Linked DNA regions of Homo sapiens: regions 1, 3, 4 and 5 are each linked to region 2. The links come from fine-mapping of genetic effects on gene expression. A gene starts in region 2. Each other region holds a variant in brackets. All regions are shown on one strand. Distances are between the middles of the regions. Region 1 overlaps SARDH (sarcosine dehydrogenase). Region 2 holds the start of SARDH (sarcosine dehydrogenase). Region 3 overlaps SARDH (sarcosine dehydrogenase). Region 4 overlaps SARDH (sarcosine dehydrogenase). Region 5 overlaps SARDH (sarcosine dehydrogenase).

Evidence for each region.
Region 1: its variant is fine-mapped to the expression of SARDH in whole blood (INTERVAL, PIP above 0.99).
Region 3: its variant is fine-mapped to the expression of SARDH in whole blood (TOPMed, PIP above 0.99).
Region 4: its variant is fine-mapped to the expression of SARDH in whole blood (INTERVAL, PIP above 0.99).
Region 5: its variant is fine-mapped to the expression of SARDH in whole blood (INTERVAL, PIP 0.94).

The regions. Positions count from the first base shown.
Region 1 is chr9:133,702,677-133,706,773 of GRCh38, reverse strand. SARDH (sarcosine dehydrogenase) reads left to right here. Exons shown (of 21, transcript NM_001134707.2): 12 at 1,743-1,826; 13 at 3,745-3,858. Among named protein-coding and RNA genes, the nearest start is that of SARDH, 34 kb to the left of the region's middle. The variant A/G (reference allele first, on the strand shown) is at 1,891.
Region 2 is chr9:133,735,967-133,740,081 of GRCh38, reverse strand. SARDH (sarcosine dehydrogenase) reads left to right here and starts at 1,730. Exons shown (of 21, transcript NM_001134707.2): 1 at 1,730-1,828.
Region 3 is chr9:133,679,689-133,683,803 of GRCh38, reverse strand. All of the region lies in intron 17 of SARDH (sarcosine dehydrogenase), which reads left to right. Among named protein-coding and RNA genes, the nearest start is that of DBH-AS1, 24 kb to the right of the region's middle. The variant G/A (reference allele first, on the strand shown) is at 1,887.
Region 4 is chr9:133,664,969-133,669,083 of GRCh38, reverse strand. SARDH (sarcosine dehydrogenase) reads left to right here. Exons shown (of 21, transcript NM_001134707.2): 20 at 2,214-2,349. Among named protein-coding and RNA genes, the nearest start is that of DBH-AS1, 9.6 kb to the right of the region's middle. The variant C/G (reference allele first, on the strand shown) is at 2,099.
Region 5 is chr9:133,688,646-133,692,760 of GRCh38, reverse strand. It overlaps SARDH (sarcosine dehydrogenase), which reads left to right. Exons shown (of 21, transcript NM_001134707.2): 16 at 2,234-2,381. Among named protein-coding and RNA genes, the nearest start is that of DBH-AS1, 33 kb to the right of the region's middle. The variant G/A (reference allele first, on the strand shown) is at 1,627.

The DNA.
Region 1 (4,097 bases), 33 kb after region 2:
CGGGGCCTCGTTCCAGTCAGAGGGGGTGGCCCCTGGGTAGGGCCCTTCCAAACCCGAGAGTGGGTTTTCTTTTTTTTCCCAAACCAAATTTATTTTTAAAGAAACCTCCCACTCTGTTTCTCTAGTGTGTTCATTACATTCGTTGTTGTGATTAAGTAGGCAGATCTTAAAATGAGCTATTTTAACTGCTCTAAAGTGTACAATTCAGTGGCATTAAGTGCCTTTGCAGTGCTGTGCAACCGTTCCCATTACCCAGTTCCAGAACATTCTCATCACCCCACAGGGAAACACCATCCCCAGTAAACAGCCCTTCCTCATCTCCTCCCACCAGCCTTGGCAACCACTAAGCTGTTTCGGTCTCTATGGATTTGCCTGTTCAGGTCACTTCATATGCTGGAATCATCCAATACATGACCTTTTGTGTCTGGCTTCATTCCTGTAGCATGTTTTCAAGGTTCATCCTGTGATAAAATGTGTCCAAATTTCGTTGCTTTTTATGGCTGAATAATATTCCATGGTGTATGCAGACCATGCTTTGTTGATCCACTCATCAGCTGAGGGCCACGGGGGTTCTCTCCCCTGGTTAGTGGTTGCGCATAGAGCTCAGTGAACATGCGTGAACGGAATTTGTTTACAACCCCGCTCTCAGTTCTCTTGTGCATACTTGGGAGTGGAATTGCTGGGTCGTATGGTGCATCTTTCTGCTAGGGCAGCCACAGCAAAAGGCCACAAGTGGAGAGGTTTCAGCAGAACTTTTTTTTCCCCACATTTCTGGAGACTGGGAGGTCCAAGATCAAGGTGTCAGACGATGGGTTCCTGGAGAGGGCTCTCCTGGCTTGTAGTCGGCCACCTTCTCACTGTCCTCATGCAGCGGGGAGAGGGCCCTGGCGTCGCTTCCTCCTCCTATAAGGGCTCCAGCCGTATGGGATTAGGACCCACCCTGATGACCTCATTTAACCTAAAGATCCCATCTCCAAATAGAGTCACGTCAGGGTCAGGGCTTTGACATACGAATTTATGTGGGGATGTGATTCCGTCCATAGCAGATGGTAATTCTACAGATGGGGGTTCTCAGGGCCAAGGCAGATCAGGGCAGGTGGTAATTCTACAGATGATGGTTATCGGGGCCAGGGCAGATGGGGCAGGTGCTATTCTGTAGCTGGGGGTTCTCAGGATGAGGGCAGATAGGGGAAGGTGATAATTCTACAGATGGGGTTCTCAGGGTGAGGGCAGATGGGGCAGGCGGTAAGTCTATAGATGGGATTCCTGGGGCAAGAGCAGATCAGGGCAGGTGGTAATTCTATAGATGGGGGTTCTCAGGGTGAGGGCAGATGGGGCAGGTGGTAATTAATTCTATAGATGGGGGTTCTCAGGGTGAGGGCAGATGGGGCAGGTGGTAATTAATTCTATAGATGGGGGTTCTCAGGGTGAGGGCAGATGGGGCAGGTGGTAATTCTATAGATGGGGGTTCTCAGGGTGAGGGCAGATGGGGCAGGTGGTAATTCTATAGATGGGGGTTCTCAGGGTGAGGGCAGATGGGGCAGGTGGTAATTCTACACATAGGGGTTCTCAGGGTGAGGCAGTGAGGGTAGCTGCAAACACTGGGCTGGAGGCCTGGTTCCAAGAGTCAGGGCCTCCTTGCTCTCCGCACCCTTGGGTGTAAAGTGGCGGATGTGGCTCTCTGCCCTGCGCAGGGGTATCAGGCCATGCGTGACAGATGCCTGTTCCCCACTCCTGCTCAGGAACTCCTTGGACAAGGCTGCGTGTTCCAGGAGCGGCATGGCTGGGAGCGACCGGGATGGTTTCATCCCCGAGGCCCAGCTCCGGTGAGTAGTGCCTGCTGGGCTGTGCTGCTGGGAGGCCCTGCCCTGACAACCCCCTTGCCCCTCC[A/G]CGTGCCCCGTCCTTGCCCCTCCGTGTGCCCCGCCTCCCCAGGTGGTTCCACTGTCGTGATCAGTTATTCTGCACACGGGAAGCCGAGCCCTGCCGACCTGCCCCCAAGGCTCAGTGCATTCTTTGTGCCGTTCACGCAATTCCCACTCCTCGTCCTCCCCACTACCCGTCCGCTGTGGCCAGGCCTTCCATGGCCTAAGTGGGAAGGGCTGTAGGCAGAGCAGAAGGGGTGTCCTGCGGTGGGGAGACAGCAAGAAGACTCCCCCAGGTTGCAGGAGGAATGGAGCGTCTCCTAATTCTGTGCATCTATTTTTGGCCACTCCGACTGTTGGTTTATGTCCGTAGGAGGGCAGGCACTGGGCAGGTTGATGCACCCAGGGTGCTCAGTTTCCCAGTGGAGGTTTCACAGTGGCCTGGACTCTGGGCGTCCTCTGGGGACTCCCAGGGACCTGGGTCCTCAGTGAGAGGAACAAAGGCAGTCCTGCTGTGAAACCTGGGACCCAGACCCTCGGGAGCAGGGGACGCGAGGCCTTAAGGCCAGCTGAGGGGTAGCATTTGATCCAGATTTACAGAAATCGAAATCCCCTTCCCGGGGCTGCGTCTCACCAGTCCCCTCTGGTGCACCCACCTTCCATCCCCATGGCAACCCACAGCCCAGGCCAGGCTCCAGAGCTCCAGGGCATCGGGAGGGGAGATGAGAGCCAGAGCTGGCTAACGGGGCCACGGCTCTGGGGTCAGAGCCTTGCAGGTCATCGTCTCTTCTCCTGCTGGCCCCTAGGGACATGCCGTCCTCATGAACCCTGCGGGGAGGAGGGGTCTGGGCAGACCCTGTCTTGAAGTGCAACCCACTGTGTTCCAGTCAGATCTGGCCCTGGAAGCCCCTCTCCCCTGTCCCTGGGCGAGGAGAGGAGAGTCAGGAACACACCCCAGGTCCCAAGATGGGCGGATTTTGCACCCCCACCCGGGAGCCAGCCTGGGTGTCCAGGACACCTTGGCAGGGCTGCAGTGGGTGGGATGTCCCTGCTGGGGAGGGGGGTACTCCATGCAGAGATGCCAGCAAAGCCTGACTCCCTTACAACCTCACACTGGCTCCCACTTGTGTGTGAAGAGGAGGTGAGGCTTGGGCGGACGGGGCTGGCAGCCCTGGGAGGTTAAGAATTGCCCACACCTGCATTCACAGCTGTGCCGTGTCGGCAGTTAGGAGGGCAGGTGGCGGGGTGGGGGGTTGTCTGCAGGAGCAGCGGCCAGGGAGGGGCATGGGGCTGTGGGGCTGTGGGGTGTCTGATGGGGGCAGATCCCAGGGAGGCCAAGGCAGTGGCAGAAAAGCTGGACTCTGGAGCCCACGCACCTGCCTGGCTTCGTGCCACTGCCAGGTCCAGGACTTGTCTGTGCCCTTGGGCGAGATATAACTTCTCTGCGCCTCACTTTCCTCATCTGTAGAAAGGGGCACACCTGGTAGGAGTGTAAGACGCTTCCCGCAGGGGCTGGCCCAGAGCAGGAGCTGGGCCTGGGATTGCCGTGGCTCCAGGGAGCAGCCCTGGCTGAGGTCCTGGGTAACCACCTCTCCCTGTCGTTCCCCACCTTGGGTGCATCCAGCTCCTCCTCCAGCCTCCTGGGCCCTGGCTGGGCTCTCAGACCCACCAGGCAACCCTGCGGCCTCCTTTGTGCCTCTGTTTTGCCTGGACCTCATGGGGGCCCCCTGCCCGCGTCCACAACACACGGGCACTCAGTGCAGGGCTCTCCGAGGGCAGGGCCAGGCCTGACCCCATCACAGCCTCAGCGGGACCCCGCTCTGGGGAGGGAAGCGGGGAGGGGCCAAAGAGGCAGGCTGAGGACCACGTCTTTTCTTCCCAGGTCCTCGAGTACGACTACTACGGGGCTTACGGGAGCCGCGCGCACGAGGACTACGCCTACCGCAGGCTGCTGGCAGACGAGTACACCTTCGCCTTCCCGCCCCACCACGACACGGTGCGTAGCTGGGGTCCACCGTGGGGGTCCGTCCTTCTGCCTGTCCCTCAGATAAGCCATTGCGCCGGCCCTCGGCTGGCCCTGCAGGGGCTCCCCTCCCCCAGGAGTCTCTTCGGGCTCTGCATTCACGCTTTTTTCGGCTGACTCCATTTTGAGGAGGAATCATGCGTTTTCCTCTCCCCCTCCTCCCTCTGTGCCGAGATTTTGCCAGCAGCCAGGCCTGAGCGGAAGTGGTGCTG
Region 2 (4,115 bases):
CTGCCGGATGAAAATCCTACGATACTAACAGACAGCTAACAGGCCGGGACCGGCCCCCAGCCACCACCCCTTGTCCAAAGTGCAGGTTCATTGTGCTGCCCTCTTGGCTTGTAACAGTTTTGCAACAGTTGCAACTTGTCTTTGAGTGCAGGGACAGGAGAAGTGTGGGCTACCCGGCCACTGCCCTGGAGCTGTGGTGACTGCTGCGTTTTTCTCCCATGCACTTGCACGTCCAGGACTCCTGGGAGAACTTGGGCCACACTCCTTCCTTGCCCTCTTGAGCTCATTCGTCACCCTGTTGGGTGAGCACAGCCCTAGCTCAGGCCACTGGGCAAGCCACACCATCCAAAGAGGAGGTCCTCTGCCCCAGGACCCCCACACCACCCCAGGTAAGCCTCAAACTGGCGGGGCCAGCTTTCCACTGGGCAGCCAGGGGCCTAAGCCAGTGGGCCCTTTGCCTTTGAGGCAGGGACTGAGAATGGTGTCAGCACGTGGTCAGGCCCAGAGCCCAGGCCCCCTCCTCTAAGAGGTCCTCCTGGATTCCCTGCTGGAAGGAAGCCAGCCTTGTGGTGTCGTGTCTCTCCCTGGATCTGTCTGCTTCGTGGACCCTGAGCCCCTCGAGGGCAGGGGCTGGGTCTTAGATGTCACTATAGGTTTCCCAGCAGTGCTTTGTACACATTGGGCATTCAGTAAATGTAGAGGATAGACAAGCTGGCAACAAGACAGTCGGACATCCTCGGTGTGAATAAGAACACAATGATTTGATTGGTATTAATTACAGCAGTTTACTATACGATCGCTTCCGGTATTGGCAGCTGGCATCATTACAATATTAACAGACTGCCATTGAAATGCCCCGTCTTTGATCCAGCGCGAGGAGGAGATGTGACTTTCCATCAGCACCTGTTCTGATTCTTTGGGCATCCAGAGGTGTATTCTTTCTGGGTTTCCTCCACACCCCTCCTCTGGGTGTCTACTTCTGTCTGGGAAGGGGTAACTTGCCCCAGCCCAGAGTCAGGCTGCAGCATCCGGTCTGCCTCCTCCACCAGCTTGCTGTGTGGCCCCCTCCCTGGGCACTGCTGTCCCCAACAGTCAATGGAGGCTGGAATCCCTGCCCTGGGGGCTACGTGCTGTGCAGTAGCCAGTGGCTTGGGGGCATCTCCCCAAACACCAGAGGGGTCTGGGAGCTCGGGAAAGCAGGACGCAGACAGACCAGGAGACCCTGTCCCTGGGAAGCTGACCCAGGCCTTCTCACTCGCCTCTGAAGGCAGTGAGCATCCTGTCCCTGGGGGTGAGCAAACTGGGGCATGTGCTGAGATGACCTCACCAAAGGAGCCTCCCTGCAGTGGACGGGCCCCTGGCCCAAGCTGCTGCTGACCCCACCTTTCCTGCCCACCCTGCCTGTGCATAGCTCCTTCTGGGCGCGGGGAGCTCGGGCGGCTCCAGCAGGCAGGTGGTGCCTGGGTCTACTGCAGCAACCCTGAGGCGCCTGTTTCAGAGACGAGGAAATGAGGGTTGGAGCGGAAGGGTGACTGCCAGGTCGCCTACGGGTAATGGGGCATGGGGTTCACAACCCTGCTCTGCCGCCCTCAGAGGGAGCTGCCCACAGGGCTGGCCTAGAAGCCCCAACTAAGCTGGCCTAGAAGCCGCAGTGGTGGGCGGTACGCTCCGCCCAGATCCTGGGCGGAGACATGGGGCTGGCAGCGAGGGTGGGGGGCGGGGGAGGCCTGGAGTTCCGGCCAGGCCACTGCTTGGGAAGCAAGAAGGTGAAGGCACCTCTGCTGGGCCAAGCACTCTTAGGGCCGAGGGGCACTGCAGCTGACAAGAGGTACTTGGAGGTACACCCCCAGGGAGGGACGAGGCTGGGGCCTCCCCTATGTGGGCGGGGCTGGGCCTGGTCAGATCTGGCTGGGATCTCCCTCTGCCTCTGGCTGCAGGGACCATCCAGCTGCATGAGCAGGACCAGGGTTCACCATATGGGCAGCTGCCTCCCCGCCCCCTGCCGCTCCTCCCCACAAGTCTGCCTACCCTCACCAGGCGAAGGTGCCAGGCGCTCTCCTCGCTTGACCCCCACCACCCCCTGAGCCTGGGAGGAGGAGGGCGTTCCTGGGTCCTCTGCTTTGCAGTGAGGTTAAGTTGTTGCTCGAGGCCCCAGTCCTGTGACAAAACCCCCACCCATCTGTCTGATCCCAAGCCCAGGGCTGTCCTCAGCCCTCACTCCTGGGAAGCTGACTCAGGTACGAGACAGAGTTGGAGGGGGCAAGAGAGTGGGTTAATGTGGAGGCAGCTGTTTCCAGGGAGGTGGCAGGCAGGAGGGGCTCTGGGCTGTCCCCGCTGGGGCCGCTGCCAGCCCCCAGTCTGACAGTCAGAAGAGCCCTGACTGACCAGGCAGGTGGTGAAGGGGCACGTGGCAGCCTCCGGCGCCAGCAGCTGTCGCTTTTTGGGCACAGTCGGAAGGAGGAGGGAGGCTTTTGCCCACAGCTGACCAGGTGTGCTGTGCCATGCGGCACCGTGGTGGGTGGTGGGTGGTGGGGTGGGGGTGTTCAGCCTTGGAGGGCCTTCCTCGGTGCCACTCAAGCTGGCTTTCCCCTGGTGGGGCACCACTTTTGGGGGCTCCTGGAAGACTGTGGACCTTCAAGGACTGAAGGTATGTACAGACACATGCAGGAGGCATGCCTCCTTGTCCGGGGCCACCTCTGCAGGCAGGAGCCAGGCGGGCTGACACACTGAGGGCTGAGAGGCTGAGGACAAGCTCCAACACCTCCTCACTCCCCTACGCCGCTGCAATCAGACTCCCTGCTCCCTCCCTTGGGATGGGGCACTGGGGCAGGAGATGGGGGGCAGCCCTGACCAGCCTGAGAGCTGGGATCCCCCTCACATCCCCCACTGTGCCTAGGACAGGGTTCTGGGCTTCGTCAGGGCTTGGGCAGTGCCCACAGTTCAGGTGGGACAGAGTGTGGCAGTGGGTCCTGAGTCCCCCTGGGATGGTCAGAAGAGGGGGCAGGAGAGAGTCCCTGGCACTGCCACATGGAGGCCCTATGACCCTGGTCACCTCAGGGAGCCTCTCCGTGTGTCAGACTCCCCCGCTGTGAAGTAGAGACATTATCATGTGTCTATAGGTGTTCAATGAGAGTGAACGAACGTGCATAGCTATGGTCCACTCTTGAAAAAGGATGCTGACTTTCTTAGATAATTATATCAGTCATTCATACTGACGTAGGTGGCACAGCACTTCACATCTTGGATCACAGCCACATCCCTTTCACTTTTCCTGCAGATCCCAGAAAAGGGCAGTGGAGGTCCACACTGGGCAGGACACCACCCCACCCTTCCATTGAGGGCTGTTGTGAGACCTCCGTTCTTAACTTCTTAGTTTAAAGAATTTAGGCTGGGCACAGTGGCTCATGCCTGTAATCCCAGCACTTTGGGAGGCCGAGGCAGGCGGATCACCTGAGGTCAGGAGTTCGAGACCAGCCTGGCCAACATGGTGAAACCCTGTCTCTACTAAAGATACAAAAATTAGCCAGGCATGGTGGCATGCACCTATAATCCCAGCTACTCGAGAGGCTGAGGTGGGAGAATCGCTTGAACCCAGGAGGCAGAGGTTGCAGTGAGCCAAGATCATGCCACTGCACTCCAGCCTGGAAGACAGAGTGGGACTCTTTCTCAAAACAAACAAACAAACAAACAACAACAACAACAACAAAACAGAATTTAAACATGAGACACACAGCAAAAGAGCTGCAACATAGAGCAATTTATTGCAAAAGAAAAAGAACATTTTGAAAGTTAGGTGCGGATGCACCCTGGGAGAGAGAGGATTCCAGGCGGGGGGCTGCTCCTGAGTGTGAGGCAGCATTGATGATTGTTGGAGAAACCCCCTTTCAGGGAGTCTTCCACAATTATTCATAAGTGGGTGGAAAGAGAGGAAGAGGTTACTAGGCAGCATGTGATGGCTGGTCCTCTGGGTGCACATGCGGTAGCTGTACATGTTTGTTCATACGTCACATGTCTCTTTCGCATCTTTTTTTTTTTTTTTTTGAGACGGAGTTTCACTCTTGTTGCCCAGGCTGGAGTGCAATGGCACAATCTCGGCTTACTGCAGCCTCCACCTC
Region 3 (4,115 bases), 56 kb after region 2:
GGAGGAGCGAGGTCCTGGCCTGCAGAGGGACTGGAGGTCCTGGGGGACAAATCTGGGTTCTGTTAGCAGATAAACAATCTGGCGATGACTGTCAGGGAGGAGGCGGCCAGAAACTAGGGAGATCCCAGCGGCTCTGCTCTCACCTCCCCTCTCCAGAGGCTGCACAGGGGCAGGAAGCAGGGCCGGCTGTGTCTAGCTTGCTTCCTGCCTCTGTGGTGCAAAGCTGCCTGCTGGGACCAGAGAGGGTGGGCACTCAGAGAGAGCAGCACAGCTGGATCCAGGCCACACGGCCTTCAGATGGCCCGACTCCAGCTCCAGCAGGCCGGGGTCCACGCAGCATCCAGCTTTGTCTGCAGCTGGGTTCTGGTTTGCAGAAGGGGAGGGGGGCTGCGGGTTCTCCCACCTTGCTGAGGCTTGGCATAGGTGCTGCTTCTGTCTGGTTTGGCTACAGGACGGGGAGACGACCAGGTGGGAACACGTCCCCTCCCATTTGAGGCCCAGCAGCCTTGCCCCCACCCGCACGGCCACTCCAGCAAGCTGCTGGGACTTGTTCTCAGACAGGCGGCTCCAGCTGCCTCCCCTCTCCTGGGGCTGGCCCTTTCCTGGCCCTGGCAGCCTCCCCAAGCCTAGGCAGTGGCTGCCTGGGTCAGCCTCTACCTGTGTGGCCTAGGAGCCAGGCCAGGCCAGGTGCTTGCTGAGCTGACCCAAAGGCTCTGCTTCCGGGATGACATCCCCCAGAGGAACAGGCCAGGCCAAACACAGCGTGGGGGGTGCAGGGGGTGCAGGGGCCGCCTCTCCCCACAGTCTCCTGCTCATTGGTGTAAAATCACTGGTGTTGTAAAAAGCACATCACGGCTGCATAAAATACTGCTCATTGCTCGGTTTCCAACCATCACTGCGCATGGGTTTCAGCACAGGGGCTGAGTGCAGACCTCGCTTCTAGCAGTTTCCAACCATCACTGCGCGTGGGTTTCAGCACAGGGGCTGAGTGCAGACCTCGCTTCTAGCAGTTTCCAACCATCACTGCGCGTGGGTTTCAGCACAGGGGCTGAGTGCAGACCTCGCTTCTAGCAGTTTCCAACCATCACTGCGCATGGGTTTCAGCACAGGGGCTGAGTGCAGACCTCGCTTCTAGCAGTTTCCAACCATCACTGCGCGTGGGTTTCAGCACAGGGGCTGAGTGCAGACCTCACTTCTACCAAGCCCACTTTGGGCACGACCCTTGCCCCCTCAGAACAAGGATGCTGGGTCTGTGGGCAGGTCTCGTGAGCTGCGGCACGAAGCTCATCTGGCTGGGACATGGTGGTCAGCGGCATCTCAGAGGACCGTTGGGGACATTCATAGCCTGCCAATGAGTTAGCGAAAACCCCTCTAATCCCATCCCAGAGAAACCAGGGTTGACAGTTGAGTGTGTTGCCCGCCATCTTCTTTCCGTCATCTGTGACTATCTGTGGATTTTAAAATGTAATCAGGGCATCCCATGCAGTCTGTACACACTGCTTTATTCTCCGAATGTCGTGACTGTTCCCCTGTTCCTTTGAACGTTCCCCGAGAACCACTTGGAACGCCCTCAGCTGCGTCTCCAGTGCCCTGCTCATGTGTTTCACACCGGGTCCACCTCTCTGCTTTGGAAGTGGCCCCGGGAGGAACTTCCCTTGAACACCGTCCTCCCAGTAGATGCTGACTGTTGGTCTGAGAGAGGGTAGAGCTGGGCCCACCAGGTCGGAGGTATGTGCGGTTCATGGTCCCGGGTCACTCTGTGGTGTGTTCTTCTCTGTCCTTCCGTATTTCTGCGCCCCTCGCTTGCCCAGTGCTACCCTAGGTCTCAGGCGGAGTGGGAGAGAAGCACAATGCTTTCTAGGCTGGGGTCCCTGCGTGTGGGATGG[G/A]GGGGAGGGGAAACACAGGGGAGGTGGGACATGAGCGTCAACTGGCGTGCGCGATCGTGGGGACACAGGAAATAGGCGGCGGGGAGGTGCTACACGCATAAGGAGGCCCAGCTGCTGGGAAACACGCCGCGCACCGGCCGTGGCAGTTATCCATGGTGTACCTCCCAGCACCGTCAGCTCACGTAGGGCCACTGGGACTCTCAGTCAAGCACTAGTGTTTTACTAAACTTAACGATCCGTTCCCAGTGCTGTGCTTCTCGTCCTCTCCCTCACTAGCGCTCGAGAGACTCTGGAGTGAACTCTGGACATGCTGCCTGGGAGCCTGCTGGGTGCTGGATTGGGGTCCCAGGATGGAAGATGTGGCTCCTTCCCTCGATGGGCTCAGACCCCGAGTGAGGTTGGGGCCCAGGAAGGGACCTGCAGCCACAGCCCAGCCTGTACTGGAAAGAGGTCCTAGGCAGGGTGAGGGGTGACCCCAGGCCAACGGGTTCTCATGGAACCGAGAGTCCCGCAAAGATGGCCACAGAGAACTGAGTGTTGGCAAGAACCAGACAGGGTGGGGCAAGGCCCCGAGTGTCTCGACCTCTTGGCTAGAAAAAAAGTGTGGCCCGTGTTGGGGGGCTCTGCCCTGGGACTGACCCCAGGGGCCTGTGGACGAGCCGGGAGCCCACATCAGCTGCCCCTGCTCTACCCACTACCCACCAGCATTCTCCCCATCCCTGTGGGCCCCATCCTGACACCTCCCAGCCCCCGTGGCAGGACCAGGGCGGCAGATGTCCCCGGTGCTGAGGGCAGGCTTCCATCCCCACACAGCCCCAGCCAGGAGCTCGTCTCTGCCGACAGCCAGTGGCCCAGGGCCCCACTCCTTAGGAAGACAGACGACCTTAGCGCACAGATTTACTGTCACCTGGGCTGAGTGGCCGGCTCTGTGGGGTCATTCCCATGCTCATGTTCTTGGAGTCCGTGGGGTCCATCGGGGACAGACTGGGGGTGAGCTGGGGCTAACCATCTTCACCTAGAGACCCTGATGCCCAGCACTGAGCGCAGCCCCACTGGCTTCTCGTCCCTCTCCCTCCTTGTCCTCCCGGCAGCTCTCTGGAGTGGCCAGTGTGGGCCTGGCGGCCAGGTCTGCGTGTGTCTGGAGTGGCCAGTGTGGGCCTGGCGGCCAGGTCTGCGTGTGTCTGGAGGACGACTGTGGCCCTCAGGAGCTTGAAGTTGCTGGGTGGCCGGTGGGTCCAGATCCCATGAGATGAGGCCGGGGACTCGAGGAGCGTGTGGAGGACGGAGCGGCCAGGAATCCTGTCCTCAGTGACCTCTGCCTCCTCTTGAGGGCCCTGGGGAGGTGTGGGCCAGGAGAGCAGAGGTTCTGGGCCCTTAGTGTCAATGTTACAGTTTTTGCTGACCTGGGAGGCTGTCCCTCAAAGTGGCCAGGGCCACGCGCTCCCAGGTGGCCCCAGCCTGGGACACAGTGCCCTCCCCATTTCCTGGCCAGCAAGACGGGTGGGGATACAGCCACTGGCCACGGCCAGCTCCCCCTGTAGGGGGCCTCACAGGCAGGTGGGAGATGGGAGTTGAGTCAGCCACAGACACTGGGGGGTTTGGGACCAAAGCATCCATGTTACCCAAGGCTCGGTGGAGCTCAGGCCAGAAGCCTGGCTTCCCATCCTGCCCGGTCCTTCTGCGGGTCGCCTCTCTGGGCCTCAGTGTCCCCACCTGTAGCACGGAGTCTAGCACAATGTCTAAAATTCTTTCCGGGCCTTTCCATAAGTCTGTCCAGACACTCTGGATTCTCTGAATCCAGGGAGAATTTCATATTCTCCTAAATAATATCTTGTGCTGGCTTAAAAATGTGTTGATGACATATCCCTCAACGTGAAGAAACGCTGGGCTGGAGCGTGGGCCTGAGCCAGGTATTTATAGGCGATCAGTTGGGTTCCAGCCAACCAGATGCAGGCGAGGAATGCGTGTGCCTGCGCAGTCAGCGGAACCTCTGGGTTGAAAGCAGTTGTGAGGGCCGATGAGGACAAGGGCCAGAGCTGCAGACCCGGGCCCCGGGTGCGAGAGCGGGCGCCTGCCGCTGCCCAAAGACCCTCCTCACCACCAGACGAATTGGGCGCGATTCCCAGCTGAGCACTGCTGCTGTTGTGCAGTGATTGTTCTCCGAGAGGCTGGGATCTGACCCAGGCTGCCACGATCCCTGGACTGCTAGAGGAGGAAGCAGGGTGGGGA
Region 4 (4,115 bases), 71 kb after region 2:
GGTGAGGGGAGATGGAGGGTGAGGGAGAGGGAGGGTAAGGGAGAGGGAAGGTGAGGGAGAGGGAGGGTAAGGGGAGAGGGAGGGTGAGGGAGATGGAGGGTGAGGGAGAGGGAAGGTGAGGGAGAGGGAAGGTGAGGGAGAGGGAGGGTAAGGGAGAGGGAAGGAGAGAGAGAGGGAGGGTGAGGGAGAGGGAGGGTGAGGGAGAGGGAGGGTGAGGGGAGATGGAGGGTGAGGGAGAGGGAGGGTGAGGGGAGAGGGAGGGTGAGGGGAGATGGAGGGTGAGGGAGAGGGAGGGTGAGGGAGAGGGAGGGTAGGGGAGAGGGAAGGTGAGGGAGAGGGAGGGGGAGGGTAAGGGGAGAGGGAGGGTGAGGGAGAGGGAGGGTGAGGGAGAGGGAGGGTGAGGGGAGAGGGAGGGTGAGGGAGAGGGAGGGTAGGGGAGAGGGAAGGTGAGGGAGAGGGAGGGGGAGGGTAAGGGGAGAGGGAGGGTGAGGGAGAGGGAGGGTGAGGGAGAGGGAGGGTGAGGGGAGAGGGAGGGTGAGGGAGAGGGAGGGTGAGGGAGAGGGAGGGTGAGGGAGAGGGAGGGTGAGGGTGAGGGGAGAGGGAGGGCGAGGGGAGAGGGAGGGCGAGGGAGAGGGAGGGTAAGGGAGAGGGAGGGTGAAGGGAGAGGGAGAGGGAGGGTGAAGGGAGAGGGAGAGGGAGGCTGAGGGAGAATGAGGGTGAGGGAGAGGGAGGGTGAGGGAGAATGAGGGAGAGGGAGAGGGAGGGTGGGGGAGAGGGAGGGAGAGGGAGGGAGAGGGAGGGAGAGGGACGGTGAGTGGAGCCGTGTCGTCGTCATCCTGTGGCTTCTCCCTGGGTGCCTGTCAGGCTCTGTCTCTTGTGTGACAGCCTGTCCAGCTCCCTGAATCAGCTCAGCTCCTGGAGAGGGGGCCCCTTGCAGACAGGTCAGCATCCATGGGTCCTTTCTGCTTGCCTGACCCCGACCTTCTGGCCCTCCATGAAGTACCTGCAGCCTGATGTCTGGGTTTAGGAGGGCCTCGGACGGCCCCTGTGACCCAGTGCGCTCTGCTCAGGGGTTTCCTGTCAGGCTGCATAATAGCTGCCCTGCGCCGCGGCTCTGGACTGTTGCAGTTCCAGGACAGGCGCAGAGAAGATGCTGGCAGTGGAGTCACAGAGAACAGCCCTGCCACACTGCTCTGGGACTCCGGGCAGTTGGGGCCTCAGCGTCCTCACGTGGAGAACAGAAACTAGGGTGACACCAAAGATGTTTACGAAACCTCCTTCCAGCCTCGTCCTAATCTGATGGACAGGTGGGACCCAAACAGTGACTCCAGGCTGAGGATGCAGGAGGTGCCCTCAACATCACCCCAGCCCTTCCATTCAGGGACCCCTTTGCATAGCTGCCGCCGTGATAACCCATTGCACAGGGAGAAGTCTGCAGACTGGCAACAAAATGTTACCAGTTAGCCCTGGGTGCTGGCCTTTCTTTGATTTTAGCTTACTTTTTTTTTTTTGTCTTCCTGCTTTTAATCTTTAAAACTTTTACAGTGAGCATTCATGTATTACATGTAGTAAAGTCCTTTGAATAAAGTATGTATTGTACTATAAAAAAAATGAACCTGGCCGGGCGCAGTGGCTCAAGTCTGTAATCCCAGCACTTTGGGAGGCTGAGGTGGGCAGATCACTTGAGGTCAGGAGTTCGAGACCAGCCTGGCCAACATGATGAAACCCCATCTCTATTAAAAATACAAAATTAGCCGGGCATGGTGGTGGGTGCCTGTAATCCCAGCTACTCCGGAGGCTGAGGCAGGAGAATCGTTTGAACCTGGGAGGCGGAGGTTGTAGTGAGTCTAGATTGTGCCACTGCACCAAAAAAAAAAAAAAAAAAAAAACCAGAGTTGAACAACAATGGAAGGAAATCGGAAGCAGGGGCCCTCCCAAATATACGGGGCTCGCTTCTGGAAACAGCAAAGTCCACTCCTGGTTTTGATGTTTTCTATTCATCCCTTTTACTCACTCGAAGCCCGAGCCCTGCTGTCCAGGCCAGGTGCTGGGCTGGCTCTGGGGACCAGCGTAGTCCTAGTAGGCCAGCCCTATCTGC[C/G]TGGAGCCACGGTTGGGTGTGCATCATGCAGCCCCCCATTCTCCTCCAGGCCGCTGTGGACGCGTCCCCACCCTGCGGTTTCTGGGGCCCCAGCTTTCTCTACTGCTTCTTCCAGCAAAGTACCCATGTTTGGCCTGGAGGCCATCTGGAGGAACGGCCAAGTGGTGGGCCATGTCCGGAGGGCTGACTTTGGGTTCGCCATCGACAAGACCATCGCCTACGGTTACATCCATGACCCCAGCGGTGGGCCGGTGAGTCCCCTTCTCTGGCCCTGCTAAGGCAGATGCCGATCCCTCACCAGCTCCAAACCAGCTCCCTGCACTGCACCCTGAGTGTGCCGGGCATAGGGAGGAGGCACGGGTGTGGTCCAGAAGAGGAGGAGGGAAGAGAAAGGAGGGAGGAGGGAAGAGGGGGAGGAAGGAAGGAGGAGAAGGAGGGGGAAGGAAAAAGGGGAGAGAGGAAGGAGGAGGAGGAGGGAGAGGGAGGAGGGAGGGAGAAGGAGAAGGGGGAGGAAGAGGCCTCAGCAGGTGGAGGACTCCCCAGCTGTGCCTGGGCAGAGCCAAAGCTGCTCTCTGTTTTCTTTCTGGAAGAATCCGACTTTGGTGATTCCAGGCTTTTTTTGGTTAGAAGGAGGTGCCAGCCAGCCAGGCTGATACCTTCCAGCTCCTCACACCAGAGACCCAAACCTCAGGCCACCCACAGCCCACCCTTTGCCTGGGGTGCAGGGGTGGCCCCCAGGGTGACCGACTAGAGACTCAGAGACCCATGTTCCTATCCTCTCTTTCCTCACCCCCGACACCCCTGACCCCAGGCAACCCCACCCCCTCCAGGTGACCCTGACCCCTGGCTGCAGGAGGCAGGAACAGGCTGGAAAGAGCAGGCACTGCCCCCAGGAGCAAGTCCCAGGACAGCTCTGGGTGGCCAGGGGTGGTGGGGCAGGGGGTGGGCAGCCTCCCCAGAAGGGGAAGGGGTGGTCTCTACCTCCACCTCCTTTTCCCATCTTTCTGGCACTGCAAGTAGAGGTGCCGGTGAGGAGGGTCGTGTCTCTCCATGGGAGCCGATCTGACGTTTGGCCTAAGCCCTAAGTGAGGCCGGGAGGTGCTGGCCTGGCTCCAGAGCCTTCCAGCCTGAGCCCCTGATGGACACGTAGAGGGAATTGGGGAGGGAGCGAGCACTTGGGAGAAGCCATGAGGAGGGGTAGGCTGGAGACGGAGCAGCCTTAGCAAGAGCTGCAGAACATGCGCAGGCCCAGCTCGCAGGCCCAATGGGGAGGGGACACCGCCAGGCCTCGGGCAAGACCATGGTCCTGTGGAGCTGTGGGGAAGTGGCAGCCCATGGGGCTGAGTCCGGCGGTGGAGCTGGGAGGCTGGGGACACACTTGATGCCACTAGCCTTTGGATCTGCCTTTTACTTGCTTTGTGACCTTGGATAAGGATCCTCTCTTGGAGCCTCAGTTTCCTCATTTATAAAATGTGGACACTCACCTACCATGCAGGGCTGTCATACAGGCCACTGCACAGAGTGAGTCTTAATATGTGGGGATTGTGATGGCATGGCTCCCACGGTGGGCAGGGCCTCCTGACACAGCCCTGGGGCCATGGTCCTGGGGGCCACAGCCCTGGGGCCCAGCCAAACCGGAGTTTATGGGCTCCATGCCAGGGTGGGCTGGGGAGTGGAGGCTCCTTTGCCATTTCTTCAAAGAACAGTAATGCTCGCCTTTCTCCGGAGTCAGGGATGGGTCCATAACCAACGTGACCAGGGAAGCCGAGGTTCCGAGGTTAAACGGCATCCAGACAGGCAGCCGGGGAACCAGTCGATGCACCCAGAGCGGCCGGTGCACGTCTCCTGCCCCCTCCATCAGGGCTGTCCAGAGCATTTGCACCATGGAAATGGGCAAATGCTACAGTCACACCCACCTCACCCCAGAGCTGGTTGTTAAACATTTTCTAGCACCCAAGTGGGGTAACGGAGGTTTCTGCCTAAGATAGGGAAACCTGCTCATTGATGGGAAAGGCTC
Region 5 (4,115 bases), 47 kb after region 2:
ATCACGTGAGCCTGCACTGTGTGGAAGCACCAGGTAGCCAGGGTCGGGAGGAGGTGAAGGAGGCCGGTGGGGCTTCAGGGACCCCACAGTGGGCTGTATGTCCAGACGGGGGCAGGAAGGGCCCCGTAACACCTGGAGGGGGACATGCAAGGGGATGGGAAAGAGCGAGGTGTTAGGGAAGGCCATGTGAAGCCGCCGAGCCGGGATGAGCAAGGCTTCCTGGAGGAGAGGGCCGGCCTGAGCTTGGAAGGATGGGGAGGAGCCACTGGCTACAAGGGTGTAGAGGTGAGAACCAGTGTGACCTGCCCATCGCTGGTCGTCTCTGGGTCATTCAGCTGAAATGGCATCTCTGAGCTGAGAGGAGTGTTGCCTGTAAGGAGCTAGGCATCAGCCCCCAGTAGAGGGGCGGCCCAGGCACAGCCCATAGCCGCAGACTTAGTGAGTCTAGCTAGGGAGACAGTAGAGGGGCCAAAATGAGGACACAGGTCACCAAAAATCCTGGCCAGGTCCTGCCACTACCTGGCTCAGCGACCTGCCCCCCCGAGCCTCAGTTTCCCCCATTGGTGGAATGGAGTGAGGAAGACGCGCCTCCCGGGGCTGCGATGGAGAATTGAGTCAGAGTCTGGGGGTGCTGGGAGGGCTGGGGAGCAGCCTCCCTGAGCCTCAGTTTCCCTGGCTGGGGAATGAGGACCTTGCTCGTCCCCCCTCATAAGGGGAAGCTGTCAGGAAAGTGCTTTCAACGCTGAGCCATCTCCCAGTGGTGCACAATTAGCTTTCCAGAGGATTCTGGTGGATTCCTAGAGCTGAGGGCTGGGGATCGGCGGTGCTGGTTGCTGGGAAGGTTTGCACTTGGTGGGTGTGGAGTTAGCACAGTGAGTCACATCCCCCAGGGCTCTGCGGGTCCTGGGGACACCACTCAACAGGAGAAAACCACCATGTGGGCTTTGCTTTACTTTCAGGCTTCAAAACTGCACTGTTTGAGTTATGAATATGCATGGGCATTAAATATGCGCGTGTTGAATACGTGCGCTACCTACCCATGCTGCATCAGATCACCACGGAGCCGAGAGAATGTGATGATTTACACAATGTGATCAAGGTGGCATACAAAGCAGCTGTCAATCTCAAAAGTAATTTTAAATGGTCTTTATTGATCTTTTTGTAAGATTACAAAAGGATACATGCTCCTGGGAACCATTCCAATGATACTGAAAAGCACAAAATCAGCTGCACAGCCCACAGCTCCCCCCACACCCACTGCCGATGGTGCAAGTCCCCGGCCACCCTGCCTTCTCACTGCTCTCTGCCATGTCAGCTTTGCAGGCCAGGCCTGGACCTGGGCTGACTGACCTCTGGCCTCAGGACTGGCGTCTTGTTTTCAGGGAAGTTGATCATGGATGGTCAGGGCCACAGGAGGCCAGGCCCATCAGCTGCCATCTCCCTGGGCACCAGTTGGCCTCAGTAGCTCCCATGCCCTCCTGGGAGAGGCCTGGGATGGCTGCAGACTGGGGGGGCCACTCAGGAGCCAGGGGCCTGAGAGTGGCCGTGTGTGTGTGTGTGTGTGTGTGTGTGTGTGTGTGTGTGTGTGTGTTGGGGGAGGTGAGGTAGGGTGTCTGTCTGAATAGA[G/A]CTGAGGATTCCATCCAGAAACGGCCCCAGTTCAGGTGTCGGGGAACCCCTTGAGGACTGGCTTGTCTCTTTGCCTTCATTCTCTGTTGTGCTTATGGTGTCAAGAGGAAGAAGAGAGGGAGCAGCCTGGCTGGGGCCTGCCTGGGGCCCTGAGAGGTCTCTCGTCCAAGGGTGCTTCCAATAGCCCTGTGGGGCCAGATGTTGTGGGTCTGCCCCTTTTACAGATGAGAAAATGGGGGCTCAGAGAGGTGAGAAGCAAGGCCGGTGAGCCGCAGAACTGCATCTGGGCCAGGCTGGCCTAGGCCTGTGTGTTCCCAAGACACCGTCCTCCCAGGGTAGGGGCATCCCTTTGAGGTGTCTGCAGAGGGGTGGGTGGTAGGGGTTGAGAAGCAGGTCCTTCTCCTAACCCCCATGGCTCAGAGGATACTCTGCAAGGCGTGGCCCTGGGGGACCCAGGGAGGGACAGATACGGTTCCTGGGCACTGTGAAGGCACAGGCCCCTGAGAGGGCATTTGTTTTCTCAGCCGGGAGACCCTTGGGCCACCCTCTCTGTCCCCACCTCCCAGGCCCTGAAATCCTGCTCTAAGTCCAGGTGCCTCTCTTCCAGGGGACGGTTACTACCTGGCCATGGGCGGGGCCGTGGCCCAGCACAACTGGTCCCACATCACCACCGTGCTGCAGGACCAGAAGTCCCAGTGCCAGCTCATCGACAGCTCCGAGGACCTGGGTATGATCAGTATCCAGGGCCCAGCCAGGTGAGAGAGGACTGGGAGCCCGCCCCTGGGTGCACCTGCTGCCTGGACCCAGGTCCTCCAACAGGCCCTTGGGCAGAACAGCTTGTCCAGAATGGGCCATTCTGAATAGTTAAGCGCTCTGGTAAACCAGAGATGCCATTCTGAATAAATATCTTCAAAGCACTGGAATGCAGATAAGCCGGTAACACGAGTCAGACTGAAATTTACAGCTGTTCAGTCACTGAGGACCCCAGGATCCCAGAGGGGAGGGCAGTCTCTGAGTCACCAGTGCAGTCTAGGAATTACCGTCCACCATCCCAAAGTGGGCAGAACCAGGCCAGATTTCGCCCTGCTACCTGGTAATTTCTGTACGCCACCTTGATCACATGGGCAGAATAATATCCTATACCGAGGGGTCCCTGGCTCCTCCGGAAACACCCTCCATGACAAGGTTAAGGCTTATCCATGCGTGCATTCCTTCTATAAACACCTGCCGGGCTGTGTTCCCCACCCATGAGAAACCAGGACCGGGGAAGACCCTCGGCTGCTGGCTCATGCACACAGCCACAGAAGAGTCTTGGGCAAAAGGACGGCTGAGCAGGTGTGCACCTTGGAAAGACCCCTCTGACTGTGCTTCGGAGGCTGGGAGAAGGGACTGGGGGTGGGGGACAGGGAGGAAGGACATCATGTTAGCAGCCACCAGTGGAGCACCTGTGACTTGCCAAGCCTGAGCCAACATCTCCCATCCCCACGGTAGCCCTTTGAGGTGGTCATAATTGTTCTTATTTTTACTGATGCAGAAACTGAGAAACAGAGAGGTTGAGACATTTGCCCAAGGTCACACAGCTGGTCAGTGCCAGGGCTGATGGGGATGCGTCCCCCTTGTGCTCAGAAGCCTGCACACGCTCACCGCCACCCTTTTTCAAGAGTTAAAAATCCTCTGTGAGAAAACGGCCTAGTCTAGGCCTTCCATTGGTGACCCTCCCCCACCAGGCTAAGGGGCCAGGACACTCATCTCGGTGTGCTTCCTGCCGCCACATCTGCCTTGGGGCTGGACAGGGTGGCTCTGCTGGACTGGGCAGGAGGAAGAGGCACGAGATGAGGGCACTGCTTCTGGGGACATGGAGGATATCAAAGGGGTGATCTGTCTCTGGAAAATGATGGTGGCAGCTTCGGGGAGAGGATGGGAAAGGAGAGGAGGAGAGGCAGGGAGGGGTGGGGGGGAGATGAGTCTCCAGCCTGAAGGTCGCCGAGGTGAGCACTTGACGTAGCAGGGCTGTGTCCTGGTGATATCCTGTCAGCCTGGGATTCTGCCGAGACCTCTGGCTGGAGTGCCCAGACTCTGCCATGGGGTCCGCTTTCCCTGGCACCCCACGCTGAGTCCTAGGCCAGTTGCTCCCCTCTCAGGCTGCAAGGGACCGAGCTGTTGCTGTCCGTCCAAGCATATGCACTGTGGTGCTCAGGGGCACACGGTAGACGCGTGCTTGCTGAGGAAGGGATAGAATCGGAGAGGGTCGAGTGCTTTAACACTAACTGGCTTCTGCCAAGTGTTTGACTTGAGGCTGCTCATAGAAACCAACATGCATTAAGGAGACATTTGGGCAGAACCCTGCAGGAAACGAGTGACCCAGCCTTGGTGTTCTGGGGGAACTGCTCCCAGCAGTGGTAACAGCAGGTGCAAAGGCCCCGTGGCAGGCCAGTGCGTATGTCTGAGGCACGCATTGAGGCTGGGATGGAGCAGGCCAGGAGCCGGGC